Homo sapiens: one gene and its partners. The main gene of each other region encodes a partner of the protein of the gene in region 2 in a complex. Each region holds a gene or a part of one and is shown on either strand. Other genes may lie near its edges.

Region 1 (10,991 bases), on a different chromosome or scaffold from region 2:
TAAATGTTCCCAAAATGTGGCCAAACCTGCATTGCTGGAAAAATAATTCCTATATCACAGCCACACAGAATTGCAAGGATTTGAGGTTTTTTTTTGTTTTGTTTTGTTTTTTGCCTACAACACATGGTGAAGGTTGCCAAATTAAATAGTGTTTCTATATTTGAAAATGGGAAAAAGTCATTAAGAAAAAAAAGGATAAAGAAAAAAGTATGGTAGCTAATGTCCAACAAGTTGAAATGACAGTAGCTTTGAAGGCCAATTAAGTCGATACAAAACGAAATCGAGAATGACGGCGGTGGTTGTAGGCTGCATCCTGGGGAATAAAAGAGCCACTCCGCGAACACAGTATTTTCTTCAGAGCAAGATGGAGCTCTTTAGAGACCCCCGGCCCTGGAAAGGATCTTCCTTCCTGAAACCCCAATGTGGAATTTAAAATAAAAACAGTATTAATATACATAACACTTCACTGAGCTGTATACTTATGATTTCTGCACCTTACGGTATGCCTCAATGAAAGGCAAGTAAAACACAAATGTTACATACATATGCTGAAATTAAAATAATGTTTCAGTAGTGTCCTTCTAATGCAGCACTGATTCTGATAGGAAAAAATGAATAAAATTAGAACATAATGTTATTATATCATAAATTAAATTAATCACCATGCTCTTAACTTACTTAGAGACAGCAATAGCTTTAACTTGTATTTTTCCATCAGGCAGAGTAATAGGTTTTATATACTTAAATGTGTTATTTTCCCCATAACCAATTCTCTTTAGAAATTCAGGTTTGCTGCCATCCAGAGTATAATATATGTTGACATCTGGAGTGTCTGAAAAATCCAAAACAGGATAACTATAATTAACACCAAAGTAGCAAGTCCCTGAATAATGCCTATAGGTCAGTTTAAGATCTAAGTGTGTGATTTAAGATTTAAAGTTGTGATTTAAGTTAAGATTTAAAGTTGTGACTTAGGACAGGCATGTGGCTCACGCCTGTAATCCCAGCACTTTGGGAGGCCGAGGCGGGCGGATCACGAGGTCAGGAGTTCGAGACCATCCTGGCTAACATGGTGAAACCCCATCTCTACTAAAAATACAAAAAATTAGCCGGGCGTGGTGGCAGGCGCCTGTAGTCCCAGCTACTCAGGAGGCTGAGGCAGGAAAATTGCCAGAAACCGGGACGCAGAACTTGCAGTGAGCTGAGATTGCGCCACTGCACTCCAGCCTGGGCAACAGAGCGAGACTCCGTCTCAAAAAAAAAAAAAAGTTGTGATTTAAGATTGTGTTAATCTCCTTAAATAACTGATCTATAGGTTATTATATATACATAATGGAAATGAATAGTAATAGCAATAATGCAGTTCTTTCTCTGTACCAGCATTGTGCTTTACTTGAATGAGCTCATTTCATCTGTACAACCCTATGAGGTAGGTCCTATTTTACACCCATCTTATAGATGAGATAACTGAGTCCCAGAGAGATTAATAAAGTTGCTAAATAATAGAGGAGTTGTGATTTGACTTCTGCTAGGTTGGATACATAGCCCCTGCTCTTGAACCACTATGCTCTTTTGCCTCTCCAACAGGGCACTGACACAAACATGATTCAAGATTCAAAAGGTCAAAAAGGGTATACAGTGAAAAGTCTCCCCCAACCCACGACACCAGCTTCCCAGAGGTTATCAATGGTATCTTCAGTAACCTTCAAAAATATTTTATATCCATACAAGCATCTATGTACATATTCTTATTTCTCCCTCTCTTTTGACACAAATGATGGCATACTGTACCCTGTTCCACATATTTCTTTTTTCATTTATCAGTATGTCTTATATTGGTACATAAAGAGCTCCCTAGGAAATAAATTTAAATTTTTTTAAAAAAAGAGCTTCCTCATTATTTGTTATAGCTGCACCACATTCTCTTATATAGATGAACAATAATTTAACCAATTCCCTACACATGGATCTTTAGGCTGTCTTCTTTTTTCCTTTTCTTTGTTTCTTTTGCAATTATAAGCACTATAATAAATAATTTTGTAAAGAATTATTTCTGTAAATATATGGGCAAGACAAATATGTAGAACTAGTTACTGCTGAGTCAAAAGATACATGCATTTGTAATCTTTTTTTTTTTTTTTTGAGACGGAGTTTCACTCCTGTCATCCTGACTGGAGTGCAGTGGTGCGATCTTAGCTCACTGCAACCTCTGCCTCCCGAGTTCAAGCGATTCTCCTGCCTGAACCTCTTGAGTAGCTAGGATTACAAGCACCCACCACCACGCCCAGCTAATTTTTGTATTTTTAGTAGAGACGGGGTTTTGCCATGTTGGCCAAGGTGGTCTCGAACTCCTGACCTCAGGTGATCTGCCCACCTCAGCCTCCCAAAGTGCTGGGATTACAGGTGTGAGCCACCATGCCCTGCCAGCATTTGTAATCTTGATTAATATTTCCAAACTGCCCTCCATGGATGGTTAAGCAATTTACACTGCCACCAGCAATGCATGAAAACACCTATTTGACCACAATCTTCCTCATCTAGTGTGTTATCCATTTTTCTTTTAGTTTTCCTAATTTCCTAGGTTAAAAAAAATACTATCTTGTAGTTTCAATTCATCTTTCTTGCATTTTGAGTAAAACTCACTAATTCATTACAATGAATGTTTGCTGAATACCTATTATGTACCAGACATCATTCTAGGTATAGGGGATATGCAAAAGTATATCTTAGGGGCTCCTTGCATATCCCCTGTACCTAGAATGGTCCCTGCTCTCATGGAGATTATGTTTTAGGAAGGACACTGAAACAGTAAACAACCAAGGAAATGTAGTTTGTCAGGTGGTGATTAAGTGCTTGGAGGTGAAGCAGGGATAAGTTCTGCTCAGCAAGCAGACGAAGGGGCAGAGAGAAGCGTAAGGAGAAGAAATATTTTCATATGTTTAAGAGACCTTTATATTTCCTTTCCTACAAAATGTCTTTTCATTATTTCTCAAAAGAAGATATACAAGTGGCCAACACACACATGAAAAAATGCTCATCATCACTAATCATCAAAGAGATGCAAATCAAAACCACAGTGAGACACCATCTCACACCAGTCAGAATGGCCTTTGTTAAAAAGTCAAAAACTAACAGATGTTGCAGAGAAAAGGGACACTTATACACTATTGGCAGGGATGTAAGTTAATTCAGCCACTGTGGAAAGCAGCTTGGAAATTTCTCAAAGAAATAAGAGTTGAGGCCGGGCGCGGTGGTTCACATCTGTAATCCCAGCACTTTGGGAGGCCCAGGCAGGCAGATTAAAAATACAAAAATTAGCTGGGCATGGTGGCACACAACTGTAATCCCAGCTACTCCGAAGACTGAGGCATGAAAATCACCTGAACCCAGGAGGCGGAGGTTGCAGTGACCCAAGATTGCATCACTGCACTCCAGCCTGGGTGACAAAGTAAGACTCGGTCTTAAAAAAAAAAAAAAAAAAAAAAGAAAGAAATAAGAGTTGAAATACCATTCAAGCTAGCAATCCCATTACTGGGTATGTACCCAAAGGAAAATAAATTGTTCTACCAAAAGGACACATGTACCCATATGTTCCTTACAGCACTATTCATAATAGCAAAGACATGAAACCAACCTAGGTGCCCACCAATGGTGAAATGGACAAAGAAAATGTGGTACATACACACCATGGAATACTATGCAGTGATAAAAAAGAATGAAATCATGTCCTCTGCAGCAAATGGATATAGTTGGAGGTCATAATCCTAAGCGAATTAACACAGGAACAGAAAACGAAATACCACGTGTTCTCACTTATAAATGGGAGCTAAACATTAGGTACAAATGGACATAAAGATGGGAACAATAGACACTGGGGACTACCAGAGGGTGGGGAGGGCTGAAAACCTACAGCAATGCTTGCTACCTGGGTTATGGCCTCAATCATACCCCAAACCTCAGCACCACACAATATACCCAGGTAGGAAACCTGCACATGTACCCCCAAGCCTAAAATAAAAGTTGTAAAAGAAAAAACAAAAAAAAGGTCTTTTCATATCCTTTGCCCATTTTTCTTCTGGGTTACTGTTCTTTTTGTTACTGAATTGTGAAAACTATTTATTTATTTGATATTTACATATTAGGGAATTTTGATACCCTACCATTCATATCATCTTTTGTCAATAGTCACCCAACTTCTCCTAAGAATTATGGGCACATACATTAAAATGTTTAATTTGGTTTGACAGTTTAAAAAATTGTATCAGCTTTTAAGCTAAAGGAGAACACAGATAATAATACATATGCTTAGTTAGAACTCTTGGTCTAAGCAGCACAGGGGTCATAACATAAATGCAGATAGTTTGTACACATTTCAGTTATTAAAATATATAATTGGTTAAAAAAAGGCAAAAATTGGAATTTCAAAGTCTTTTTTACACATCTATTTGTTCATATGTTTTACCTGTGAAACTTTCCTTCCTTATGTTAATTATATATGTGTATGTATATATATGTGTATGTGTAGATATACACACATATTTAAGATTTTGAAGAATACGTATTAGCAGGATATACATTCACTGCTTTATTTCTTTTTTCTTTTTCTTTTTTTTTTTTGAGATGGAGTCTTGTTCTGTCTCCCAGGCTGGAGTACAGTGGCGCCATCTCGGCTCACTGCAACCTCCGCCTCCTGGCTTCAAGCAATTCTCCTGCCTCAGCCTCCCGAGTAGCTGGGATTACAGGCATTGGCCACCATGCCTGGCTAATCTTGTATTTTTAGTAGAGACAGGAGGCTGGTCTCAAGCTCCTGACCTCAGGTGATCCACCTGCCTCAGCCTCCCAAAGTGCTGGGATTACAGGCGTGAGCCACCAGGCCTGGCCCTCACTGCTTTATTTCTGTAGTTAGAGTTGAGATTTATTTTCACATTACTATATGCCAAACCCTGTGCACCTCATACATACACGAACCTATTTATCCTCACAATGGCTCTAAGAAGTAGATATTATTATTCCTGTCTTACAGTGAGGTAACAGACTCAAAAAGGCTAAGTAATGTACCCAAGGTCACTAGAAGTTGTCAAGGCAGGGATTAAGTCTCCAACCTGTCTGACTGGAAAGCCTGTATCAGTAGGTCAAATTTATTATACCAGCTAAATAATGAGCATATTGGAAAAGTTTGGGGAGCACCGGGACTTTTTTTTTTTTTTTTTTTTTTTTTTGAGACGGAGTCTTGCTCTGTTGCCTAGGCTGGAGTGCACTGGCGCGATCTCGGCTCACTGCAACCTCCATCACCCAGGTTCAAGCAATTCTCCTGCCTCAACCTCCTGAGTTGCTAGGATTACAGGTGCCCACCACCATGTCTGGCTAATTTTTGTATTTTTAGTAAGACAGAGTTTTGCCATGTTGGCCAGGCTGGTCTTGAACTCCTGACCTCAAGTGATCCACCTGCCTCGGCCTGCCAAAGTTCTGGGATTACTGGTGTGAACCACCGCACCCGGCCAGCACCGGGACATCTTACCTTGGCTAAGGTAAGTCAAGACATTGCTGAAACTATACAAATGAAAGGTTGGTCAAAGCTAACCATTTTAATCTAAATGTATACCACTCTATAAACCATCAATGTACAGCACTGTTTCAAATTTTAGAAGTTTTACAAATTTCCCAAAAAGCTGAGCAAAGAGTGAGAAAGCAGGCAAAGAGATAAACCAGCAACCAGATAACACAAGAAATATGACAATGTTATTTTAAACAATTTCAAACATATGTGATTCTTACCTGATTTCATTTCCAAAAGCGTATTGTTATCAATTTCATGGTTAGCTTTTCCAGGCTGAGGCACTCGTAATGGTATGATCTGAGGGACACACACTGAACCAGCAGTCATTTTCTCTCTCTCTCTCTCTCTCTATATATATATACATATAAATTCCAATGTACACAAAAGCTGAAGAGCAGCACTTAATTTAAATGCAGCAAAACTAGTTAAAACGAGAGAATACTGTTAACATGGCACTACAAATATTATTCCCTTTTTAATTGAAATAATAATTACATTTCATCTGTATTTGCTGTTGAGGTCTTGTGTGGGGTTTTGATTATCTAAATACCTCACTTCTGCGAAAGGAGCATGAATGAATGAGATGGGGAAAAGAAAGAAGTTACTTTAAAAGGACAAATTAAATGAGTAAGGCAAAACAGAGACTATCACTAACGCTCTGACTTGAGTTCCCTGTAAATCATTATCGCCTTTTCCTGCCTCTGGTGTGTGTCAGCTCTCTTGGCTTCAGGGCAAGTCATCATACAAGGGGAACAGAAGTAATTCTGTGTGTACCACAAAATGTTAGTTAGAGCTAACTTTTTTGGGAAAGCTCCGGGTTCACAGCCTTGCCATTATCACCAGAGCAGTTCTAGTATTTGAAAGCTGCAAAGACACTTTAGAAGGACTGCAGAGTACTACTTCTCAGTGGAAAGGAAGTTTGCAAGAATATAAACAGTGACCAATAAACACAAGCCTCCCGTTTCATCTACTGTATTTATAAATCCTGGTATTAATAATTAACTACCAGTATGAAAGCCTTACTGGTCTTTTTGGAGGTGAGGGTGGGGAGGAAGGTTGTCATAATTAATGCACAGAAGGTTTCAGGGGGAAAAAACGCTCACCTTAACACAACAACCATTTACATCTCTGTATTGCCTTTTCAAATTTCATTAATAATCCATAGATTTTGCCCAATTATAATCTACATATTCATTCCATTTTTATAGTCTACTTCTTGCATTCTCACTGTATTATTTAGTTTTCCCTGTACTTATTTATCCATTTGTGGCTGGGCATTTAGGCTATTTCTAGTTTCTTTTTAGTTTTGCCTGTTGCAGTTCTAATAATGCTGATCTGAACATGTCTGCAGTTTGAGCTTTGTCACAGACTGTATTCTCAAAAATGGGGTACCTAAATTTAAGGGGTGAACTTAATGCCTTGTTGGATAGTTCCGGATCTAGGGCCAAGAATATAAACTACAGATACTGACAGCACAACAATAGCTCCTACGGGAGTGTGGCTGGACTTGAGACTTGCCCATAGTCGCATTTCCATTTAAGTGAAAGGCAGATAAAATAAAAGTAGTTGAAAAATTCTAAATAAAAAATATGTAGGAGAGGAAGTAATTCGCGAGCGTCAACTAGCAGCTGCCCTTAGGAAGCTGGGGTGGCCAGTGGGCCCCACGCAAAGGGAATCAAGAAAAAAGGCGGATCCGCCAGGCCCAAATGGCAACGTGCAGTCAACAGGATCCCCAGACCCCTCAACTCTCCCAACGTGGACCGCCCCCTCGCAGCCCGGATCCGGAATCCCGTTTGGTTGTTCCCGCCCATCAGGGGCTGCCAAGGACACCTGCATCCTTTCGGCTGGAGTAAGGGAAGCTCTTCCCCTCCTCTAGCCGCCCTCCTCTTCCTCTAACCGCGGGGCCCGGGATCGGGACCCCTAATGCATCTCTGCCGCGCCCAACCCAGTCGCCAGCCTCTCACCGCCTCTTGCCTCCTCCTTCGCCGCCGCCCGGGTTACCACAGACGCGGCGAGCCGCGCCCCGCCCACTGGGTGCTGGGCAGATGATTGGTGGAGACTCAGCTTCTTAGCAACTAGACCGGCCCCTGCCGCTCCGCAGGGAGCCTGGTACCCGCCTGGAGTTCCTTTCCCAGTGCTTTCCCATAGGCATCTAAGAATATTCCTTCACAGAGTTGCCAAGTGCTAAAAGTTGGTTTCCCAACTCAGAATGAAGGAACCAGGCTTGTGCGTCCGATGGGCATTGACATTCTGGAAAACAAGAATAAGAAGCTGTAGCGGCGCCTGTAAGTGGGCCGGAGCAGGCGCAGCTTGGCCACCTCCCGCCGAAAGGCAAGGAAGGACCGGCTGCGACACGAGGAAGAAGGCCCCTCGGCCTCAGCAGAGCGCTATCCTCCACTGGTTCCCCGGGTTCCCCGGCTTGCTACCGGGCTGCTCCGTGCATCTTTCCCCCCAGGCGTCAGGAACTGCGCCCTCATGGCGGAGGTGAAGGTGAAGGTGCAGCCGCCTGACGCGGATCCGGTCGAAATAGAAAACAGGTAAACCAGTGAGGCTCCGGCTTGGCACTCCATCAGGCGCCCAGTCATTTGGGCAGCTGGACCCCTTCTCCGGGATCCCTTGGGAGTGGCCGGAGCGGGTTAGGTGAGCACGCGGGAAAAACGATTGCGGGGTTCTGGACCCACTTGTTCCTTCCCATCCTGGGAGAGCAGAACTCAAGAAGTTCAAAATGGGTTTGACAGCTTGCAACTTTGTGTAGCTGGCTGGCTTTGCCCTGATACTTTTGGGGAAGTTGTGATGACGTGCTGCCTTCCTACTTTGACGCGATCAGTGCTTTGAGAGGAGCCCTCGGCTTTCTTTCCCTGTAGAACACTTGTGAATACATGTTCTGATCCAGGATCGCTCTTGTCACTAAGGGAACGTCTATGACAAAACGTTTAGGCGGAGTTAGGGCGCAGTTGGTGATTACGAAGTAACATTAAGCCAGGTGGTTTCAGTGCAGTATTGAACTCAAGACTTTTAGGACACCCAAAGCCTCTGCCACTTTTATTTTTATTTGTTTGTTTGTGAGACAGAGTCTCGCTCTGTCGCCAGGCTGGAGTGCAGTGGCGCGATCTCGGTTCACTGCAATCTCCGCCTCCCGGGTTCAAGCGATTCCCCTGCCTTAGCCTCCCGAGTAGCTGGGACTACAGGCTCGCGCCACCACGCCCAGCTAATTTTTTATGTTTTAGTAGAGACGGGGTTTCACCATGTTGTCTGGGATGGTCTCGATCTCCTGACCTCGTGATCCGCCCGCCTCGGCCTCCCAAAGTGCTGGGATTACAGGCGTGAGCCACCGCGCCCGGCCCAGTTTTATATTTTACCGAGGCACTGCCACTCTTAGATTTTCACGTAGTTTTAAAAGACTCAACTTTCTCAGACTGTTAGGAATAATACATTTGTTGATGTCGACTAGGTGAAGATTTTGACTTTTTTTGTTTGGTAGGTATAATTCCAAAAACAGGCCCCATTATGGTGAATTGTCATAACAAATTTTGGCTTCCTACCAGAAACATCTGCATTTGCCTCCTGCTTGCAGATTTATGGCTTAACTTTGTCATGCTTATTACACCCGAGAAAACTGAAGTCTCAGCTTTAATATTTTTTCTGTGATTTCATTAGACTTTTGCTCTAATTTAAAGTTCTTATTAGTGAGGAAAAGAAATATTCTTAAATAACAATAATACTGTAAACATGTATTTAGAAATCATCTTCTTCAATTTCTAACATGCTTTGATCCAAAACCATCACAGAAACCCAGATTGTCTGCCAAATGTGAAAAAGGCACAGTTTCAAACTATTCTACTTGTATTTTTACCCCCACTGTCTCTTGAAACAGGTAACCATGAAGGATAACATTAATACCTTTGTTTCTAGGATTATAGAATTATGTCACCAGTTCCCTCATGGAATCACAGACCAAGTAATTCAGAATGAAATGCCTCATATAGAAGCCCAGCAGCGGGCAGTAGCCATCAATAGGTTGTTGTCTATGGTAAGGTGAATCTAACTATTTTGCATAATTACTGATATGCTGATTATCACTGGTTTTTATTATGTAGTTGTGATGGTTAATTTCATGTCAACTTGACTAAGATACAGGATTCCTACATATCTAGTTAAATATTTTATTGGAGTGTCTGTGTGGGTGTTTCTGAAAGAGGTTAGCATTTTGAATTGGTGAACGGAGTAAAGTAGATATGGGTCCAGTTGGGTGAGCATCATCCAATCCATTCAGGGCCTAAATAGAACAAAGTGGCAGAGGAAGATTGAATTCACTCTTTGAATTCAATCTTGAGCTGGGCTATGAATCTTGTGCCCTCAGCACTCCTGGTTCTCAGACCTTCAGACTTGGACTGGTATCTACACCATCAGCTCTCTGCTCTCAGCCCTTTGATCTGCAACACCAGCTTTCCTGGGTCTCCAGCTTGCAGAGGGCAGATGATGGGACTCCTCAGCCTCCATAATCACAGAGCAAATAGCTTCTGATGAATCTTTCAAGAGGGAGGTGTATCCTATTGGTTCTTTTTCTCTGGAGAACCCTAATACAGCAGTCATAAAACGAGAAAGTGTGTTAGGTTTGACTGATAAGACTCTAAACCAGGAAACAGCTCAAACTACCTGAATTGAAAAAAGAAGAAATAATTATGCGTTATAAGACAAATGAAATAAATGTATTATGGTATAACTGTTGTATTTATTAATTGCCACTGCCATACATAGGTCTAGTCTGTTCTCACCTTCTGTTTGCTTCCTACTGCTGGTGTTGGGCCATTTCCCATAAAATATTCCACCCCCCGATTTTCCTATGAGTTGTCACAGAGCCCAGTCATCAGGGTTTCATTCTCCACATTGTCACTCTGAGCATTTCAGGAAGCAAGAATGAGTCCAGTTGAATGAAGAATGTTGGGCTTTGGGGAGGAAGTGCAGCCTTAGCCCCCAGTGACATTGCAATGGAATTTATCAGTGAAGCCATTCTCCATCTGTCCAGAAACAAACAAGCAAGACTGTCTAAAAACCCACCAAGTGGTGCCGATGCTCTAAATCTCCCTTACTTTCCCTCATCACCAAAACATCCTTTTCCTAAGAGCATTTCAGTTTGGCTTTAGTAGCAGTTAGGTTAAAGAGTTCTACGCCAAGGCCTCATCTGAATGACTGATTTGTTTTTTAAGTCTACTAGCCTTGTTGGATTTCCAAGGGCTCTGGATGTGGAGATTTGGGGTCCGATGAATCTTTTCTTAAACCTTTCCCATCAATTTTCTAGCTCAGGAGTTGGCAAACTTTTTCTATAAAGTGCCAGACAGTATATGTTTTAGGCTTTGTGAGCCATATGATTTCTGTCACAACTACACTGTCATTTTAGCAAGAAGCAGCCATGGATGATGATACATAAACAAAT
Region 2 (10,503 bases):
CTGCCTCTCGGGCGGGCTGCGGGCACAGACAGCTTCAACGGGCACCCGCCCCAGGGCTGCGCCAGCACCCCTGTGGCTCGGGAACTGAAGGCCTTCGTGGAGGCCACCTTTCAGAGACAGTTTGTGCTCACGCTGAGCGAACTCAAGCGCCTCTTCAATCTGCACTTGGCCAGCCTGCCCCCCGGCCACACACTCTTCAGCGGCATCTCGGACCGCATGCTACAGGACACGGTGCTGGCCGCCGGTTGCAAGCAGATACTGGTGCCTGTAAGTAGAGCCCTGCCTGCCAGGGGCATGGGGGGTGGGGGGTGGGGAGAACCAGCTGTTGGGAGGCCACGTGGGGACACGGGAGGCCATGCTTGGTGAGCATCTGCTCTCACGTGGGCCTAGGTGTGACATGGGCAAGTCAGCCTCTCTGAGGCTCTATTCTCATGAAATGGGATCATGTTGGGTTTTATGTCACAGGACTGTGGTAGGGGCTAAATACGGTGTCTGAAGGCCCGGCCTATTGCCTGGCCTGCAGCAGGGCCTAGTGAAACAGGGCCCCTGCCTGGTTTCTCACCCTGTCCCCCACCAAGAACACCTGTTTCCTACTAGCTTTGCCATTGTTTGGAATGATTTAACTTCTAAGATCGTTTGATCTTCTTTGCAATCTGCAGATGAAGAAACTGAGGCTCCAAGGAATGAAATGTACGTTTAAAGGTCACTACCTAGGAGGTAGTAGAGCTGGAATTTGGACCTCAGTATAGTGGCCTGGAGTTTTGAATCCTTTCTGCTCAGCTAAGATGAGCTGCTTCCCCACAGCTGCGCCACGCCCCAGCTTGGGCCTGGGTCCTGGCGGCCTCCCTGTGCATCAGAAGCAAGCTGACCAGCTCAGCGCTGTGCTCTCAGCACTTCCAGTGCCAGGCCTTGAGTGTGGTATTGCAAGCCTCCTGCCCCTTCCCCCTGGGCTGCTTTTCTGTCACTGGGAGGGGCCCTGACGGGGGAGCAGAGTGCTTGCTGGGGACCGTTTCCCTGCGCTGAGGATAGAGAGCGCCAGGTGCTGCCTGAGGCACGCCTTTCCCGTGCTCCTTTTCCACAAGGCTCTGCCCAGACCTGGCAGCAAAATGGGGTGAGGTGGGGCTGTGGTGGTCTCTAAGAAAGCATTGATGTTTTCATTGCCAAGGTCAGGAGCGGGCCTGCAGCCTTGGGTGATGATCTGAGGCCAAGGCCCATCCCTGTGTATGAGGAATAGAAACTAGGACAGGAGGCCTTGTGGAGCCTAGGCTGTCTCAGGGGATCGGCCCTGCTGGCAGGCAGCCCCCTGTGGGAGGTACTGGCAGAGTTCGGAGCTCCTGCCCACCCAGCACATGGGTCTGGGTCTCCACAAGCTCACCTTTCTTCATGAGCTGGGCCAGGACAGGCAGGACACCTGCCTGACATTAGTTGTTTTGGGCCGCTGGAGTGGACAGAGGTGAGGGGTGGGACATGGCCACCCTCAGACACCCTCACCCCTCCTTCCGGACCCCCTCTGTCCATGTTGCTTTGGGGTGGGGCCAGCGTCTCCAGGAGACACCATGGCCCTAACTGTAATGCTCTCCTTGCCATCCTGACAAGGAGACTGTATTGTAGTCACATCCAAGACGTAAGAGACCTCCGATCCCAGCCACCTCTGTGTTGTACATGAGGGAGCTGAGGTCCAGGGCAAGTGAATAGATCGAGAACTTGACTTGAACTCCTGGTTCTGCTGCTTATTAGCTGTGTGACCATGGACAGTGAGCAAACCTCTCTGAGCTTACTTTTCCCCATGTACTACCTCCCCAGTTTCTAATGCTCAAATGCAAATGTGTATTGGAGGCCTCACAGGGCTTTTACTGGTAGTAACCATTATTGCTACTTGTGTGATGGAACCAGGACTGGAAACTACCATCCCAGATGCCCCCTCCCCTGTCCCCTTCTCTCCAGGACCCAGGCCTGTGTCACACTTGTCCTGGTCTACCTTTGGACCAAGTGGCCTGGATTGCTTGGGAGTCAGGCAGTGCCTCTAACCCACACTGACATGGTACATGTGGGAAGCAGTTGAAAAGAACCCCCAGGGTACCCCAAGAGTTATGGGGAAGGGGGCGCCCCTCCATCAGGGTTGGCATCTTCAGGAGGGAGGACTCTGGGTGTTAAAGCACAGTTGAGTTGGTGCCAGGCTGATGGGAAACAGACGCAGCTTCCCCACTGTACGGAGGATATCTGCAGACTCGAAGCCGGGCATTTCACTGGGCCCATCACACTCCCCCTCTCGCTGAAGCCCTGTCAGGCCCTGGGGGGTGTGCTGGCCTCCTCCCCATGGTGAGGTGAGAGGCACAGGTTTGTGGCTGCCCAAGGCCCTCAGAGATGGTGAGTAGCAGAAGCTGGGATTGGAACCCATGTTCCTGCATCTGGGCTGGGGCAGACAGGGAGGGATGAGGCAAGCAAATGGATCCATGGGGTAGAGATGGACAAGCAACTCACCCCTGGGCCTTGGTCAGTTTCCCCCCCAGACTGCTGCTTCCCCGGATGAGCAGAAGGTGTTTGCCCTCTGGGAGTCTGGAGACATGAGTGATCAGGTGAGGTGAACTTTGCTGCCATCTTCCCGAAGAGCCAGGGGGGTTTCCTGCAGCGTTGGAGGCCTTGGGGGACATGTGCACCCAAAGTGCAGCCACACATTTCAGATTTTCTGGCACACTCGGTTTTAAATATCCTGCTCCAACTCTGTACGCTAACAAAATAAGCTGTATGTGCCAATAGTTTGAACCTAAACCAGTGGTTCCCAGATGCCAGTCTGTGAGCCAGCTCCATCAGAATCATCTTTTAAAAAATACAGGCTGGGCGTAGTGGCTCACGCCTGTAATCCCAGCACTTTGGGAGGCCAAGGTGGGTGGATCACCTGAGGTTGGGAGTTTGACACCAGCCTGACCAATATGGTGAAACCCCATCTCTACTAAAAATGCCCATAGTCGTGGGAGGCTGAGACAGAATTGCTTGAACCTGGGAGAGAGAGGTTGCAGTGAACCGAGATTGCACCACTGCACTCCAGACTGGGCGACAGAGCAAGACTGTGTCTCAGAAAGAAAAAAAAAAAAAACATAGATTCAGTTCTGTTCAGTAGGTATGCGGTACTGTCCTAGGTATCTGAATTTCTGTAAAGCTTCCTGAGCAACTCTGATCCAGCCAGGCTTATAGAGCACTGGTGAAGCACATTTCTCAGGCGGCCTCTGGCAGCAGGAATCAAAAGGATTCCTTGTCAGATGTCAGGTCCTGGACTTTTAGGTTAAAGAAATTGGTCATTTTGCCTCTAGTCATACTGTGATGGGGAGGGTCACAGGTGTCCAGTGCCCAGAAATGTGAGTGGAAGCAGCAGCGCCTTGCGTGTGTGTGGTGTAGTCATGGACCCTGCATCCCAGCTTTTCTTAGGCCGTGAACGTACCTAATTTGATGGTCGAAACGCCAGTCGGTCTGACCGTGTCTAGGCCCTGCTCCTAAGGTGTGGGGAGAAGGGAGTCAGCAGAAATCCCACTGAGCTCTCTGTCCCCAGCTGCCTCTTAGGGGAGCCAACTGGCAGGCTGAGGATCTAAGGGGCTGGGGCCTTTTCCTGAGCAAGCTTGAGTGCTTTTGTCCAGAATAGAGGGTATCTGAAATACTTTGATAACAAAAAGGCAAAAAAACAAAAGTCATAAATGCAGATTTTTAAACATCAAATCAGACTAGAAGTTTTAATAGGAAAGCTCTTGCACTGCTGGACCTGACTGCCACCCCTCAGAGGTGACCACTTTTATTACTACTTTTTTAATAGAAACAGGGTCTCACTATGTTGGCCAGGCTAGTCTTGAACTCCTGGCCTCAAGCAGTTCTCCTGCCTCAGCCTCCCAAAGTGCTAGGATCATAGGCATTTACATCACCAAAAGATACCACTAAAATAGCTGCCCCCATTTAAAAAAAAAAATCAGCCTGTCATTAGCAATGGGCTTCCCATTGTGGTGGATGAGATTTAGCTCTCAACTATTTTAGGAGACTGTAGAGATAGATATGTTACGCCAGTTTTTTTTTTTTTTTTGAGATAGATAGCGTCTTGCTCTTGCTCTTGCTCTGTCATCTAGGCCTGGAGTGCAGTGGTGCCATCTCAGCTCACGCCTCTTGCGTTCAAGCGATTCTTGTGCCTCAGCCACCCGGGTAGCTGGGATTACGGGCTTGTGCTGCCTCACCCAGCTAATTTTTGTATTTTTAGTAGAGATCGCGGTGGTAGGGGTCGGGGGGTGGTCCCACCATGTTGGCCAGGCTGGTCTCGAACTCCTGGCCTCAAATGATCTGCCTGCCTTGGCCTTCCAAAGTGCTGGGATTACAAGCGTGAGCCACCACACCAGGCCTTTACCTCTTTTTAATTGGCTATCATTGTTTATAGCATTGTCACAGAATGAACTGAAAATCTATCCATTGTAGAGCCAAACATCAGTAATATACTATGATTGCATTTCCTTGTTCACTGCTTCCTGTTTTCACTTGTGTAATTTTCTGAACACATGTGTACCGAGGGTGATACTTTGCTTAATTAAGCCTGGTTCCCGGGAAGCCTCTCCCTCTGCTTCTCCAGTGAGACTCGCTCTTCCCCATGTCTGTTGCTGAATTCTGGAATCTCTGCTTCTTCCTTGCTTTAGCTTCTGAAGAGACAGAGGAGTTGTCTGCATTCTTTCATGTCTTAAAATGGATTACAATACAGTATTACTGTTTGTCTGGGACTAGAATTTTAAGAGGCAAAGGATACTTCATGTAGCAGTCAGCTGTTTACATGAACCATAGCAAAAAAAAAGGAGAATCAAATCCATCTCCTCTTAATGTTTGCAGAAAGATGCAAACAAAACCAGCTAAGTATGGAACAATGTGTGAGGTTATCAAAGTTTCTATTTTTACGTGATCAAATGATTTGCCTCTCAAAATTCTAGTCCTAGACAAATAGTGATACATGAAGCATCCTTTTTTTTTTTTTTTTTTTTTTTTTTTTTTTTTTGAGACAGAGTCTCCCTCTGTCAGCCAGGCTGGAGTGCAATGGCACGATCTCGGCTCACTGCAACCTCCGCCTCAGCCTCCTGAGTAGCTGGGATTATAGGCGTGTGCCACCACGCGTGGCTGATTTTTGTATTTTTAGTAGAGACGGAGTTTCACCACGTTGGACAGGCTGGTCTCGAACTCCTGACCTCAGGTAATCCGCCTGCCTCGGTCTCCCCAAGTGCTGGGATTGCAGGCGTGAGCCTCTGCGCCCGGCATGAAGCATCTTTAAGAGAGTTTCCATTGTTTAAGTTTTCAGAGTTGTTGAAATTCCATAACATTCTCCTTCTTGGTCTTTTAAATTTGGCCTGTATTCTTTCCTTTATGCCAAACTGCAGAATTTTTCATTATTCTGTATATCAGTCAGTGCCATTTCAGCTGTGCCCTGGTGCGGGTCATTATTGTACTAGACAATTGAGTTCTTATAAAATCCTGTGAGTTGTTACTTTTTTTTGTTTTTTTCAGAATTCTTATGACAGATATTAGACATACTGAATCCAATCTTTTCCATTTTTATTTTGGGGTGTAACGTATTTTACGGCATCCTGTTTCATGGATGCAGTGGCATGTTTGTGCATTAAGACTTCACACCAATTTTGACACCCTCTTCTCATCTCCGTGCAGCTTAGATTGTCGCTTCACCTGCTTGCTAAGTCCGATGCACGCCTGCATTTTACCATGCAGAAATATGTTCAAGCCACTCATCCTCTCATGTCTCTTCACCAGTTCTTTTGTTATGCTGGCATATACCTTTGTTTTTATTTATATTCAAGTTTCCAGACATAGCATTAATGCCTTTACTTTTGTGTTTTTATTTCTGTACACTGTCTTGCTGGGTCTCTAGAGATGACTTGGCTCATCTTTAACCAGAGGTGCTGCGTGAGGGTTTTTATCAGAGACTGCAACACAAAGTCAGGTGCATGGCTTGGGTGTCTTGTTTGGGGATGTTTCTCTTTTTAGATCACTGTTTCCCATCATAACGTGTTTTTGCTACTAAAGCATCGACAGGTTTTGCTTGAAATTTTTTCCAAAAATTACCGGGTACGCCGAAACATGATCCAGTCTCGGTTGACTCAAGAGTGTGGAGAAGATCTCAGTAAACAGGAGGTGGATAAAGTACTAAAGGTACATCCATTTTGTGCATAACAAACAATATCAAAGGCTCTGGAAGGGGCTGACAGTGTGTAGAAGGGACTCTAGTGTCTTTGTGTATATGAAATCAGGCTTCCTTGGGACCACTCCCCAGTCAGTCTTGTCTTGAGCAACTGTTAATGATTGATTGATTGGCATTGGTTGGGGAAGGGGGTATGTGCCAGAGGACTGACCCCTTCAAACAATATAGTCACAGTGGTGTCCAAGGGAAAGAATACAGCCATGGATGCTTTGTTTCTCTTTCTGGTTGGGCCAGGCCAGTAATGCCCCTTTCATCCCTCTTCTCTGCTTGTCACTAGAGACAGAAACTAAAAACCATGGCTTCAGGCTGCTAAGAGCCTAAAACAATAGAACAACAAAAAAATATGGTAGGTTGGATGAGCTTGGCAGTGGGTAGGCGTCTTCTAAAATGATAGGGCCTAGTTGAGAATCCTCACTCTACTCTCCCTTGAATTTTGAACTATCTTCTGATTGTTGCCATAGCCACACACATGACTTTCAGTAGAATCCATTCTTAAATTTAGTTTAAAAAGGAATATGATCTGTTTACTATATGAAAGCACCTAATGTACAACCTATAATGCTTTTCTGAAGTGACTGTAGTACAAATACCAACCATATTTGCAGCAACACTGAGAGACAGAAAACTGATGACAATGTCTTGTTTTGATTAAACATCCAGAGCCATATAAGTAATACTGTTTTTTAAGCACCCTTGTTCTGGGCATGTCAGTATCTGTATTTCGTAGACCCCCTTTTTTTTTTTTTTTTTTTTTTTTGAGATGGAGTTTTGCTCTTGTTGCCCAGGCTAGAGTGCAGTAGCACAATCTCGGCTCACCGCAACCTCTACCTCCCAGTTTCAAGCAATTCTCCTGCCTCAGCCTCCTAAGTAGCTGGGATTACAGGTGTGAGCCACCATGCCTGGCCCACCCTCACTTTTAAAATGCCCCTGAGGAATGGCCAGGCGCGGTGGCTCACACCTGTAATCCCAGCGCTTTGGGAGGCTGAGGTGGGTGGGTCACTTGAGGTCAGGAGTTTGAGACCAGCCTGACCAACATGGAGAAACCCCATCTCTACTAAAAATACAAAATTAGCCAGGCGTAGTGGTACATGCCTGTAATCCCAGCTACTTGGGAGGCTGAGGCAGGAGAATCGCTTGAACCTGGGAGGCAGAGGCTGCAGTGAGCCAAGATCATGCCGTTGCACTCCAGCCTGGGTAACAAGAGCAAAACTCTGTTTCAAAAAAAAAAAAAAACACTACCCCTGAGGAAAGGGTGGCTGGTAGTAGCCATGGTGGTATGGTTAGGCAGTTTTTGATTTCCCATTTGTATTCTATTCACTAATCATAAATCGAGTGTTGACATTGTGGACAGAATGTAATTAGCTCCTTTTCCTGCAAAAATCTGTGCTTACCCTGTTTCTCTCTCATAGGACTGCTGTGTAAGCTATGGTGGCATGTGGTACCTTAAAGGGACAGTACAGTCTTGACAATAGTAGCAAACTACTAACCCAGCAAATCTAAGCCCAAGGAAGAAGGGCGGAACCAGAAGTAGGGCCTCGACTTGCTTCAGACGACACAGAGCAAGAGGAACTGACCATCTCATGACCTGTGGCATTGCACGGTGCAGTGGACAGAAGGGATTATCCTCAGCCAGTCGCAGGGTCAGCTTAAGTTAGTTAGATCACTCCCAGAAGAGACCAGCTGGGACCTTCTTTGCAGTACAATTTGAAATTCCTGATGTATTTTGCTTATTATTTGGTTTCATTCTCATAATAAAGAGAGTGTATACTGACATGGGCAGGATGATAAAAATCATGGTTTAATATTTTCTTTTGTAAACTTAATGCCAACAAGGTCTAAGTTATGTTTACAACATGAAGAAAACCTCAAAGTTCTTAATTTTTAAAATGCCTAGAAGACAATATTTAGTCTTGGATTATCTATCTGCTAAGACCTCCACCAATTTCATTAAACCAAATTGAATTATTCTATTCTTGGGATTCTGTGGCCACTTCACCTTTGACAACAACCTACTTTATGTAGCAGTCTCAACTGTTTACATGAACCATAGCAAAAAAATCAGAATCAAATCCATCTCCTTTTAATGTTTGCAGAAAGATGCAAACAAAACCAGGTAAGTATGGAACAATGTGTAAGTGAGGTTATCACACTTTGATGTAAAAATTTCTATTTTGTGTATTTTTAAAATAAATGCAAACACTAAACTAGCATCATGGTGCTATCTTCAAATGGTTACAGGAAGGCGATCTTGTTGGGCTCAGCGTTACGTGTATCTAGAGGGAACGGAGCTAATGGAGGAAGACAGAGCAGCACTGTCCACTAGAAAGAGGCGAGTCACGTACATAATTTTGAAAGTTTCTAGCAACCACATTAGTTTAAAAAGGTCATGTTAGCATATTATTTAGCTCAAAATATCTAAAACATCAACATAAGGTAAAAGTCTTCAAAATCTGGCATTTTACACTTTCCTCAACACTCAGTTTGGACTAGCCACATCATAAGTGCTCCGATGCCACATGGGGCTATTTGCGACAGTATTGGATAGCACAGCCCTAGAAACTGATGGAAAAAATAAGAGTAAGCTAGGTTGGATGACATGTGAATTTTGGTATCTAGATAAGGCTTTCGCCATCTTTTTTGTACAACACAGTCACTAATTGTCTGAAGGTTTAAATGACGGTCTATGCTATTTCCCCACTCCCCCCAAAATAAAACATCTAATATTTTAGCTATAGAATCACTAAGGCATTGATCAAGGATGTACTTTGCCAAATAAGTATTTGGTAACATCACTTAACAAGTTGATCGTGTATTGATTCTGTTAACATATGTGAACCTGAAAAGTAAAGTTACCAAAAGCGATTTGGAATATGTCTCAGCTTTTCCATCCTACTTCCTTCTCACTTTGAAAGGGGAAATGCTCATGTGGGACGGCACAGAATGTTAGTCCCATCACCTTGCAGAACTTAATTGGCTCAGTGGAGAAGTCAGAGCCTTAAATACTTTACATTGATAAAAAGAACTGGTTAAAACACCAAACTCAAATAGCAAGAAAAAGAAACAAGGAATATAGGAGGGAACTATTGTTTTAAAAAAAATTGAGGGAACTTGGGATGTCAGAATAGGACTTTCCAGCACTCATCCCCCTGCAGAAACATGAATTTAAACAACTGTCCACACACAAAAATACCTTCACAAGAGTTAAGGAACCTCTAGAGATTACAGCACCTTGGTGTACCACAGAAATAAGATGTACTAAAGAGGATAGGAGGGACAATTTTACATTACCTAGCTTACCCCCTCCCCAGCCCCAGGCAGCACAGGGTGGAGAGAGAGAGAGAGAGAGAGAGAGAGAGACCCTCTACTTGGAGGAAGGAGAACATTGGACCCCAAAATCATGCCAGCCCCAGACTCCAGGCCTGCGCCAGGAACACAGGCTCTAAGCATACCCACTGCCAGGCCTGCACCCATGAGCTCACACTCTAGCAGGCACCCCCTCCCCACCCTGGTCCAGCCCCATCTGAGTAAACCCCAGCACTGGGCTGGCCCTCACAGACTAGGCTCCAATATCCCCTGCAGCCCCAGGTTCTAGGCCAGCCCCCATGGCCCCAGGATCCAAGCGAGCCCTCAGAGACTAATCTCCAGGCCAGTATCTATATACCCCTGGCTCCAGGCTGATCTATATGCCCCCATGCCAGCACCCACAATCCCAGGCTCCAGTACAATACCCCTGGACCCAAGGTCCATGTGTGCCTCAGCACCAGGCTCCAGTGGACCCAGGTTCCAGGCACATACCTCAGTAAGCCTCAATGCCAGGCATGCCCTGGCGGACTGAGGCTCCAGAACAGTCCCTATGGACCCAGAACCTAGGCCCACCCCTGCAGGTTTTTAGGCTTCAGGTCAGCTCCCTGGATGCAGGCTCCAGGCCTGCCCTTGTGGACTCAGGCTCTGGTTGTACCCCTGCAGACCCAATCAACTGGCCCACTCCACTGGACCTACGTTCCAGGATTAATCCTATGCATGCAAGCACCAGGCTCATCCATCTGCTGACCTAGGTACTAGGTCAGCCTGCTCAAGGACTCCAGCAACAAGCCTGCCCACAGAAGACCACACCAGACAACTTGCCCAGAATCTCTGAATGGGCTCACTGGTAAACGGCTGTTCCAGGCAAAGTCAGACTGCAAAGATTAGAATCAGTCCTTACCACTTCATCCAATGTACAGACATCAACATATGACCACAAGGATCAAGAACAATCAGGGAGACATGCTATCACCAAA
Region 3 (10,503 bases), on a different chromosome or scaffold from region 2:
CTCTTTGCCTTACTTTTGTCAGGCTTATGCTCAGGTATCACCAAGTAAGAGAGGACTTCTTCAGCCACCCTTTCCACAATAGCATCCATGTTTCCTGTCTTTATTTTTCTTATCATTTCCTGACATTTCCTATAAAATATATTTTGTCAGTTTCTTACCCTAGACTATGAGCTTCATGAGAGGAGAAATTTTGTTTTGTTCACTACTGTATTCCCAATTCATAGAAGACGGCCTGACGATGAGGGTGCTTAATAAATACTTGATTGGATTGAAGAGGCTCCCTGGGAGACAGATAAGAGCTGACAGTTACAACATGATTGTAAAAAGGGCTTAAAAGCAGAGTAGTACTTGGGAAACACAGAGAAGGGAGAGGCCTACCTCCATGTAGGGTGGAAGAAATTGTCATGGAGAAAGTGTCATTTGCATGGCATCTGAAAAGAACCTGGGGCTTAAGTGGATGTGGCAGGAAGGGCACTCCAGGCATGCAATGGTTGACTTGGCCACAGCGTGGGGTGCCTGTGGTGAGAGGCAGAAAGACTCCAAAGCTCTGTTAAGGAGAGTCACATGTCAAGATTTGTATTCCAGAAAGATACCCTAGACTGCAGAGTGGATTGAAAGGGAGAATCCGGCCACAGGAAGTTTATTTGTTCTGTTTTAGAGGTCCAGGTGAGAGATGAGAGGGTCTGAACTGAAGCAGAGGTGGAAGAAACAGAACATGGGAGAGAGAACAGAGCTGGTAAACCTCTACTATTAGATGAGGGGTTGGAAGTAGACAGGTCAGAATACCTATCCTGATTGTAGCAATTTAGGGGTCATTCATCAGGAATAATACCGTGACTTGACTTTCACTGCCTCCTCTAGCTTCTATGTCTGCTTCTATCTGTTTGTGCATTTATTCATGGAGCTGACGTTGTTACTGGTGGAGGGTGTCCAGGTTCTTGGCGTCTTGAACAAAGAATTGGACGAAACGCGCAAAGCAAAGAAAGAATGAAGCAACAAAAGCAGATACTTACTGAAAATGAAAGTACACTCCAGTGAGGCAGTGGGTGGAGCATATGGGCTCAAGGGTCCCCTTACAGAATTTGTGGGGGTTTAAATACCCTCTAGGGGTTTCCATTTAGTTACTTGGTGTACACCCTATGTAAATGAAGAGGATGAAGTAAAGTTACAAAGTCATTTACTTGGCATATGCCCTATGGAGAGGATATTTCCTGTCATAGCCGTAATGTGAATTGGCCTTTTGTTCCCTGCCTCCAGACCCTATTTTCCTGCCTCAGTGTGGACAAGGAACTGTGTAAGACGTGGAGGACAAGACATTTCAGTTACCTCATAACTCATAAAATGTTAGAACTAGGAGGAATTTCAGAGATTAGCTCAGCATCTGCTAGGACGTTGTTTTGGTAGTTGATTAAAATTGACTTTTTTATTTCAGCTCTTGGATGCTTAAACTACACCCATTTTCAAACCTCTCAGAACAATTCTGAATAGAAATTTTCAGGAGACATCCTGAAATGGAAGGGGCAATGCTACTGATTTTACATTTTTAATTGAGTCTGTTTTGCAGTTATTAATTCACTTCATTGAATAAAGACCTCCCTGGGATTAAAAAAGTCTTCTAACCAGCCTAGACCTATGCTTCCTGAAGTGTAATGCAAATGGAAGAACAGTGGAAAGGTAAAGCAGTCCTGCTTTTGTTAGGAATTAGCTTTGCGTCTTTAGGTAATCAAGTAACCGCTTAGGGTGTTGCTTTCCTCTTCTGTAAAATGGGAGGTTTAATCTGCGTGGTTCTTTTTTTTTTTTTTTTTGAGAGGGAGCCTCACTCTGTCGCCTAGGCTGGAGTGCAGCGGCGCAAGCAACCTCCACCTCCCGGGTTCAAGTGATTCTCCTGCCTCAGCCTCCCGAGTAGCTGGGACTACAGGCGCGTGCCACCATGTCCAGCTAAGCCTGTAGTCCCAGCACTTTGGGAGGCCGAGGAGGGCAGATCACGAGGTCAAGAGATCAAGACCATCCTGGCCAACATGGTGAAACCCTGTCTCTACTAAAAATGCAGTGGTTCTTAATTTGGGTTGCACACTGTAATCTCCTGGGATGCTTTAAAAAGTCCTGATGCTTAAATGGTACCTCCAGAGCTTCTGATTTTATTGTTCTGGGGTGAATCCTGGGTTTTCTTTTCTTTAAAACCTCTCTCAGTGATTCCAATGTGCAGCCAGGTCCCACTCAAAGAAAGGGGGAAAAAAGCCTTAATAATGGGCTGACTGAATTGTCCTTCTGTGGGTAGATTTGCTCATCAAATCACAGTGCACAAATAGGGTAAGCTTGACATTAATTGTGGAGCTGTTGCTATATAGGAAGCACTATGGTAGACAGTAGGGAGGATAAAATCCCTGCTTAACACAGAACCAACAAACAGCCAGGCGCGGTGGCTCATGCCTGTAATCCCAGCACTTTGGGAGGCTGAGGCAGGCACATCACCTAAGGTCAGAAGTTCAAGACCAGCCTTGCCAACATGGTGAAACCCCCATCTTTACTAAAAATACAAAAATTAGCCGGGCTTGGTGGCAGGCACCAGTAATCCCAGCTACTCTGGAGGCTGAGGCAGGAGAATTGCTTGAACCCGGGAGGCGGAGGTTGCAGTGAGCCGAGATCGCACCAATGCACTCCAGCCTGGGCGACAGAGCAAGAGTCCATCTCGGGAAAAAACAAACAAACAACAAACGAAAAACATAGGTGAAACTCCTCCCCTTTGGAAAAGATCAATTTCCCAAAAGTGGTATTCTATTTCTTTGAAAATTGACAAGTGTGGCAACATATATCACCTGAAATTTTTTTTTTTTAATCTGTGTTTTAACAGGAGGATCTTTCCAAGAGCAATGTGGGATGAAGTGGTTGTTGTGGTTGCTGAGGGACTTAAACTGGCTTTTTTGGTGAAAAGGGATGTAGCAAGTCAGGGAGGCAGAGGGAGTAAGTTGCAGTGGAAAGACTGGTATTCAAGACATGACTATAGTGAGTCAGGAGAATAGGGTGCAACCATCTTAAAAGGGCTCTGAGTAAATAGGGAGTTTGGATTTAATTCAGTTAGCCAAGAGGGAAGATGAGGAGAGTAGCAGAATCAAAACTGTGCTTTAGGATGAGTAATGTGGATCCATAAATTAAACAGGAAGAACAAGGGATACCACAAAGTTTGCAGTTAATCAGAAGTGAGGTGAAAAAGGACTGAGCTGGATTATGGTAGAGAAATTGCAAAGAAAGTGACATTTAGAAAGAATATGATTGATCAGTGCTCTCTGGCTCCTAGCACAGTGCCTGGAATGCTCAATATTGGTTGAATGAATGACTCAATGAAATTGGGCCATATGAAGTAGAGAAACATTTGGAGCATGAGGAAATATAGAAAGCACTAAAACTCCTTTATTCTAGAGTTTGGTGTATTGAAAAAGGAATGAGACAGTGGTTAACTCAACCACAGTCTCACTTGTAGGCTGTTTCTTTCATGATACATTTACCAGGATCCAGGGACTCTCTCTGAGCTCTGCAGGAGAAGAAAATGAATTTATCAGCTCCTCTGTGTACAGGGTAATGGATTCATGAAAACTAACTTAAAGAGATGGGTTTGTAGGCTGGAATGCCACATAATTATTAAATGTGTCAAAAGCTAGGAAGTTTTTCTGGCAAGGGTGGTACCTTCGCTAATGATAGCAATTCATACACCCAAAGATTGCTTGATAAAAATGGAAATTTAGAGTCAATAGAGTTTGTTATTTTTCAAGAGCTGTTCCATGAAGCAGTGCTAGCTGGTGTCCTCTTTTTTTAGGGTGAGTTTTCCAAACTTTTCCAGGGCCCACCTCCAAAGATTCTGGTATGGTAGGTTTGAGGGCTTGAAGAAAGCCTAGGACTCTATGTTTAGCAGGTCCTCCAGTTAATTTTCATGATGAGGAAAGTCTGGTAAACTTTACCTGGAATTGTTTTTAATCTTTAAGTAGTGGCAAATCCTGGACTGGAGTGCAGCCCAGTGGTTTTGAGTAGGCCTAGTGGGCTCTTGCAGTTGTTTCTTAGAGTGAAAGGTGTGACCCCTTCTGCTCAGCAGTTTTGATACTTGGGAGATACGCTTTCTCTAGGCTCAGCATATGTTTTAGTGACTCAGCAATTGAAACAAGTCCATTTGGATATTTTCCTGCTTTTTTAATGTAGAGAGATGTAATAAGCTGGGCTATTAAAATAAATATAGTTCCTGTATGAACTTTATTTCAAGGTAACTAAATAATAGATAAGAGAAATTGATCCCTGGTGGAATTCCAATTAATAAAACAGAAAGAAAGATAAAATTTGTATACCACCATTTTGCAATTCATAATGGAAAAATTGATCTAGATTGTGATCATCAGTGACTGCTAAAATCATTAGGTGAAAACTGATGGACACTTTATACTTAATGAAATAGACCAACACCTGAACCCATGACCAGCCTGATCAATACCAAGAGGGAGACTTTATGTTCATCTTGATGTAATAGAGAAGGAAAGAGAGAGCATCCCTTTTCAGTATTCTTGAAAAAAAAAAAAAAATCAAACCCAAATCTAAACCTCTAGTTTACCTGTTTATTGGAAATACACCCAGAGAATACAGGAATATGTTAAATCACATCTCAGGTATAAATCAGTCAAATCCAGAATATGGGAAATTATATAGCTTTGCTACTTTCAAAGTATGGTTTACAAACCAGTTGATGTCTCCTGAGACCTTGATAAAAATTCAGATTCTCAGTTTCTGTCTGCAGCCAACTGATTCAAAATCTGCCTTTTAACAAGATTCCTAGGTAATTCTCTTGTACCTAAAGTTTAAGAAGCATTGTATAGGGCACTGACCTAGTTTCTTAGACAAATAGAAAGAAAAAAAAATGGGAAAACCATTACAGTTTAAAAGAAAGTTAAATGTCATGTATTTTTTATATCTTGATTTGAACAAATTAACTGTAAAAACATTTATGTGATAACTAAGAAATGTGAATGTTAGTTCTATATAAGATGATGGTATAGAGTTATTGTTAAAATTGTAGATGCAATGTTATTGTGATTTTTTTAAAAGCCCTTAACTCTGAGAGAGGATACATACTGAAGAGTTTAAAATAATCTGAAGCATGGGAGTAGAAAAGTATAGTTAAAGTACAATAGTCATATACGGATAATTTTGAAGCTGAGTAGTGGGTATATGGAGATTTAATATACTGACTTTTGTGCATGTAAGTATAGTAAATGTAAGTATTAGTAAACCAAAAAAGGCATAGACTTGTAGTTTAAAACGACAACATTAAAGATGACAAATCAACTTTTAGTGTTCAAGCAGTTATGAAGGAAAACTCAAATATGGAGGCCTGCAGGGATAAATTTACGAAATGAATAATGTAAAACTATGAAACCCAAAGGGAGGGATTGAAACCAACTTTGCAAAAGTCATAACTGAGAAAATTATGACAGTGAAAGATATCAGACCTAATTGATCCCATCTTGCTTCTAACCTCTGAACTGTCCTTGTTCATTCTTGGGCGTGAAACCACCTTTGCAAAATTATGACTGAGACAGTGAAAGAGATCTAACCTAACTGTGACTCCATCTTGCTTCTAACCTTTAAGCTGTCCTTGTTCATTCCTGGGCATAGGCTGAACTAACTTTGGGAGGAAATTAGTTTATGGTTTGAAACAAAGACGATAACAGACTTTCCCAAAACAAACCTCCTCCTTGCCTGGGGACTAGACTGCCATTGTCGGACTAAGAAATTATTCACAAGATTAGAAATTATAGTTTCGGAGTCATGCAGCTGGAGGCTACAAGATTCTGACCCTCCCTAAACCACTCCAAAGATCAGTGCTTGAGATATTTTGCAGACCCTGCACTTGATGGATCAGGGGGCACTACCCAGATCGATTAACTGACTCTTCTGATCTTGTGGCCCCCACCCAGGAACTGACTCAGCAGAAGAGAACAGCTTTGACTTCCTATGATTTCATCCCCGAGCCAACCTATCTGCGCTTCCAGTTCACTGGCCCCCTACCCACCAAATTAACTTTAAAATCTCTGATCTCTGGCTGGGCGCAGTGGCTCACAACTATAATCCCAGAACTTTGGGAGGCCAAGGCGGGTGGATCACCTGAAGTTGGGAGTTCAAGACCAGCCTGACCAACATGGAGAAACCCCGTCTCTACTAAAAATACAAAATTAGACAGGCATGGTGGCGCACGCCTGTAATCTCAACTACTCGGGAGGCTGAGGCAGGAGAATTGCTTGAACCCGGGAGGCGGAGGTTGCAGTCAGCGGAGACCATGCCATTGCACTCCAGCCTGGGCAACAAGACCGAAACTCCTCCGTCTCAAAAAAAAAAAAAAAAAAAAATCTCTGATCTCCGAGTTTTCGGGGAAACTGATTTAAGGAATAATAAAACTCCGGTCTCCCGCACAGCCAGCTCTGTGTGAATTACTCTTTCTGTATTGCAATTCCCCTGTCTTGATAAATCAGCTCTGTCCAGACAGCAGGCAGGGTGAACGCCTTGGGCAGTTACAAAATCATATCTGAAAATGTTCTCAGTATCATAGCCATTATGTCAAATCAAATGCCGTGCATTCTACTTGAGTAATTCACAGAAAACAGGAAACGATGTTTCATTACATAAAGATGTTGAATATATGATTTGCTTCTGGGGCCTTAAATGTAGAAGGACATTAAAATTGGCCATCATTGGCAGGGTGCCATTGGCCGGGCACGGTGGCTCATGCCTATAATCCTAGCACTTTGGAAGGCCGAGGCAGGCAGATCACTTGAGGTCAGGAGTTTGAGACCAACCTGGCCAACATGGTGAAACCCCGTCTCTACTAAAAAAATAAGCCGGGCATGGTGGTGCGCGCCTATAATCCCAGCTACTTAGGAGGCTGAGACAGGAGAATTGCTTAAGTGAGGGAGGGAGGTTGCAGTGAAAAAAATAAATAAATAAAATATTTAAAAAATTAAATTGGCTGTCTAAAAGTGCAATGCCTTGTTACTGCTATTCCTTGCAAATGAATTAAAACTTGGACTGCCACATCCTGAGTGTTACATAGATTTACAGCAATTATAGTTATCTTACCTTTAAGGCAAATATTTTTAAGTTGCTAAGGCTAATTTTATAATTTTAAACCTCAAAGATGAGATCTATGAAGTCCTTGATTCTACATGTGTATTTTAACTCAACTACTCCTTAGTAGCTAAGACTTCCACCAAAACAGTTCTACCAATACTCTTAACATTTGCTGTGTATTAGAATCACCTGGGAAGCTTCTAAAACTGACTCTTGCCCAATCCTCACCCCAAGAGATCTGGATTGATTGGTTCAGTTCAGTGATTCACAGAACTTAGCATACATAGAATTATCTGGAAGGCTTCTTAAAACACCAGTGCTGGGCCCACTCACAGTTTCTTTTTTCTTTAGGTCTGTGGTGGAACTCACAGTTTGCATTTCTACCAAGTTCTGAGTGATGCTGCTGCAGACAGCACTCTTTGAGAACCATTGCTCTAGTTTCTTAAGCCACCCAAGTCATTCTAATGGCAGCCAGGGTTGAGAACTGAGAGCCGCTTGCTTTGTAGTGTTGGCCCTGTGATAAAGTGAGCTGGGAGTTTTCAGCCTTTTGGTCCAAAATAGTGCCTATATTCAAATTGTAGACAGTAAAATTGATATAAAGACGTAGCACCTTGTTGGTTTTACGTAGTGTTCCTTCACCATTAATGTGGTAGACTAAGAAGGGTAACATTAATGACCAGGCAAGAAACCCTGGTGAAGAGTAGAGCAGCTGTGTGAAGTACTGTGGCTTGCATAATTTTGCAAGGAGGGCAAGTGAGTAGATTCAGAAATGAGACTGAGCTGATGGGGCCAAAACCAATGCCACTCCTCTGACTTCCTCCGAGTGGTCCAGGGGACATACCATTTCTCTCTTGGGTTCAAGGGGTTAAATGAGGCTCAGTATTATCAGCAGGGAAAGAAATGTAAAGAATGTGCATTATAATCATCACTACAGTTGAATGCAGACTTCTATTGAAAGAACTCTAGCGTAGGGATCCCTGTTTATACATTGGCAGCTCAGTTCTCATAGTATAATCAGAGGATTCAAACGTTCAATACAACTTGCATATGTGATATCACTCCTGTCTCCAAAATTGAAGAGTACAGGTTTATCATAACTTTAATGATTTTAACTGTTTTTCTCTGAATTTTTTTTTTCTTGGACAGGCATCTTTCGAGTCTCATTGATCCCATTCCCATTTCTAGAAGGAAGACATTGGACTAGATCTCAGGGATTCTTCCAAACACTCACATGCTAAGATAAATCATTTAAAGTCTTAAAGTATATATGACTAATGATAGTTTTTATGTTGACATGAAAGATTTCTTCTCCTCATCAGCCTGGTCTTGTCTTGTGTCCACTTTTTATGTACATTACATCTGAGATCCTACTGCCAAACCACAGAAGGGTGGGTGAATTGCGTGGACTGGATGTGGGGCAGTAGTGGGTGAGGGGGTTGAAGCCATCATTATCTTACCTGCCAGAGGTGTGTGAGTGTGAGCAGTTCAACAGTCAGTTGTCACATGTTTATTTGTGTACATGTTTTGCTTTCCAAAAGTATTTTAAGTCAACTGTGCTACTTAAGGGGTGCAGTTTTATATTTTGCTTTAAAGTGTTGATTTCTTTTTTATATGTGATCCAGTAAATCGTAATCATTAATAGTGCCTTTCAGAATTTGCCCACTCATCTGGTATAACTGGTTCTGATGGCTGGGAATAAAGGAAGAGGACGTGCTGCTTATACCTTTAATATTGAGGCTGTTGGATTTAGCAAAGGTGAAAAGTTACCTGATGTAGTGTTGAAACCACCCCCACTATTTCCTGTAAGTATATGAACAGTTGAATTCTCATAGTGTGTTTTTTCATTTTTCAGAGAATATTAAAATTCTATATGGGACTGGATGTATGATTATAGCATCCTCAAGTATAAGAAAGTAAAGGAGAGTGTGTTTCACTTACCTTTAAATATTTTCATGATCTGCTTTCTTAAAATATAGAAAACAAAACTGTATACATCTTTCCATGAATATATTTAGTACTATGTGAACCAGTAAAGAATTAGTTTTCAATTCTTACAACTTGTATTGGTGTTATTGATAAATTCCAATATGAAAATAATAGTTTTAAAAGTCATTAGGTTTTATAATGGTTCTCAGTTCGCACCCTATCACACCTTCACTTAATGATTTTCTTATCTTGTATCTATAGAATTTAAGTTTGCTCCTTAGTATACCACTTGACTTTTTCCCCCACTGAACTTTTTTTGCTTATTTTAGTGTTGTTTTAAAATTTAGTGAGTATGCTGCAAGCTTAATTTCCATAATATATAATGTTTTCGCTTTATGTTTAGTTTAGAATGTATCCAGGGATCTAGATGTATCACACAAGGAGTCTCTGCGTTTTGCTCTTGGTATTTTACCTTTTTGATATTCAGCGCAGCATAAAAACAAAGACAAATATCTCAGGTATTGGCATAATGTCACTTTACAGTGCTTTTAAAAACAAGCTCTTTTCCATGTGTGAGGAGATTACCTCTAAACACTGGGGATGTTAGTACATAGTATTTCTTTATACTTGGAATAAAATTAAAATTCCTTACTACTGGGTAAAAGGCTCTGCCCGATCTCTCCGTTCTGATGTCTCTCTGACCCTTTTTCTACCACTGTCCTCATTCCCCAGCTACGCAGGTCTCCTTGGGTCCTCAGGCCTTTGGCCCTGCTGGTTCTCTGCTGGAACCATCTCTTCTCTTTGCATGGATGGCTCCCTGATTTTATCCCAATCTCTACTCAAATGTGACCTCCCCAAGAGGCCAGGCATGCTCACCCTGCATAGATTCCACCTCCATCCTCCATGCACTGTCAGTCATTTTTCCTTTACCCACCTTCATTTATTTTTATGTCATTTGTCACTATGTGAAATTGTATGTCACCTCATTTGTTTACTAATTTGTTGTATGTTGCTCTCCTAGAATGTAAGTTCCCTGTGGGCAGGGACTTTGACTTATTTATCATGGTATCCTCCATAGTCTAAACATGTTGAGTACTCAATAAGTAGTTGCAGCATGAATGTATACATTCCTAATCAAATTTTGAAAATGTACCTTATCTTTATCCTCTGAAATCAGAAATGTCTTTACTAGGTACCCTGGAGATCCACTTGTTAATGAACATATTTGTGTAAATATATACACACATACAAACGCGTATTTGTGTATATGTATGTGTGTGTATAATTTTTAAAACTTGAAATGCAGCTTCAAACTCCATCTTGCCATTTATTCACTTCTCAATTTCTTCACTGTAAAAGGATAAATATTGGTAGCCCTTTCAATGAGATACTGGATGTTGGATATTGAGTATATTGTAGTCATAGCAACCACTTACTAAATGATAGCTGCTGCTTTTTTATTTATTTATTTTTTTC

The links.
Region 1: POLR3E (region 2) and POLR3F share a complex: the UniProt entries of both Homo sapiens proteins name them as parts of the RNA polymerase III complex.
Region 3: POLR3E (region 2) and POLR3G share a complex: the UniProt entries of both Homo sapiens proteins name them as parts of the RNA polymerase III complex.

The regions. Positions count from the first base shown.
Region 1 is NC_000020.11:18,459,475-18,470,465, forward strand, and holds the start of POLR3F (DNA-directed RNA polymerase III subunit RPC6), read left to right. Parts: upstream 1-7,915; 5' UTR 7,916-8,032; coding exon 8,033-8,094; exon of another isoform or gene 8,095-8,197; intron 8,198-9,469; coding exon 9,470-9,587; intron 9,588-10,991. Other genes in the region: DZANK1 (double zinc ribbon and ankyrin repeat-containing protein 1), read right to left, coding at 679-832, 5,776-5,905, 7,388-7,393. UniProt on the Homo sapiens protein: DNA-dependent RNA polymerase catalyzes the transcription of DNA into RNA using the four ribonucleoside triphosphates as substrates.
Region 2 is NC_000016.10:22,326,012-22,336,514, forward strand, and holds the end of POLR3E (DNA-directed RNA polymerase III subunit RPC5), read left to right. Parts: coding exon 1-267; intron 268-659; coding exon of another isoform or gene 660-749; exon of another isoform or gene 750-2,498; coding exon 2,499-2,576; intron 2,577-6,048; coding exon 6,049-6,174; intron 6,175-7,632; coding exon 7,633-7,689; 3' UTR 7,690-9,085; downstream 9,086-10,503. UniProt on the Homo sapiens protein: DNA-dependent RNA polymerase catalyzes the transcription of DNA into RNA using the four ribonucleoside triphosphates as substrates.
Region 3 is NC_000005.10:90,476,782-90,487,284, forward strand, and holds part of POLR3G (DNA-directed RNA polymerase III subunit RPC7), read left to right. Parts: intron 1-8,247; exon of another isoform or gene 8,248-8,743; 5' UTR 8,744-8,786; coding exon 8,787-8,903; intron 8,904-10,503. UniProt on the Homo sapiens protein: DNA-dependent RNA polymerase catalyzes the transcription of DNA into RNA using the four ribonucleoside triphosphates as substrates.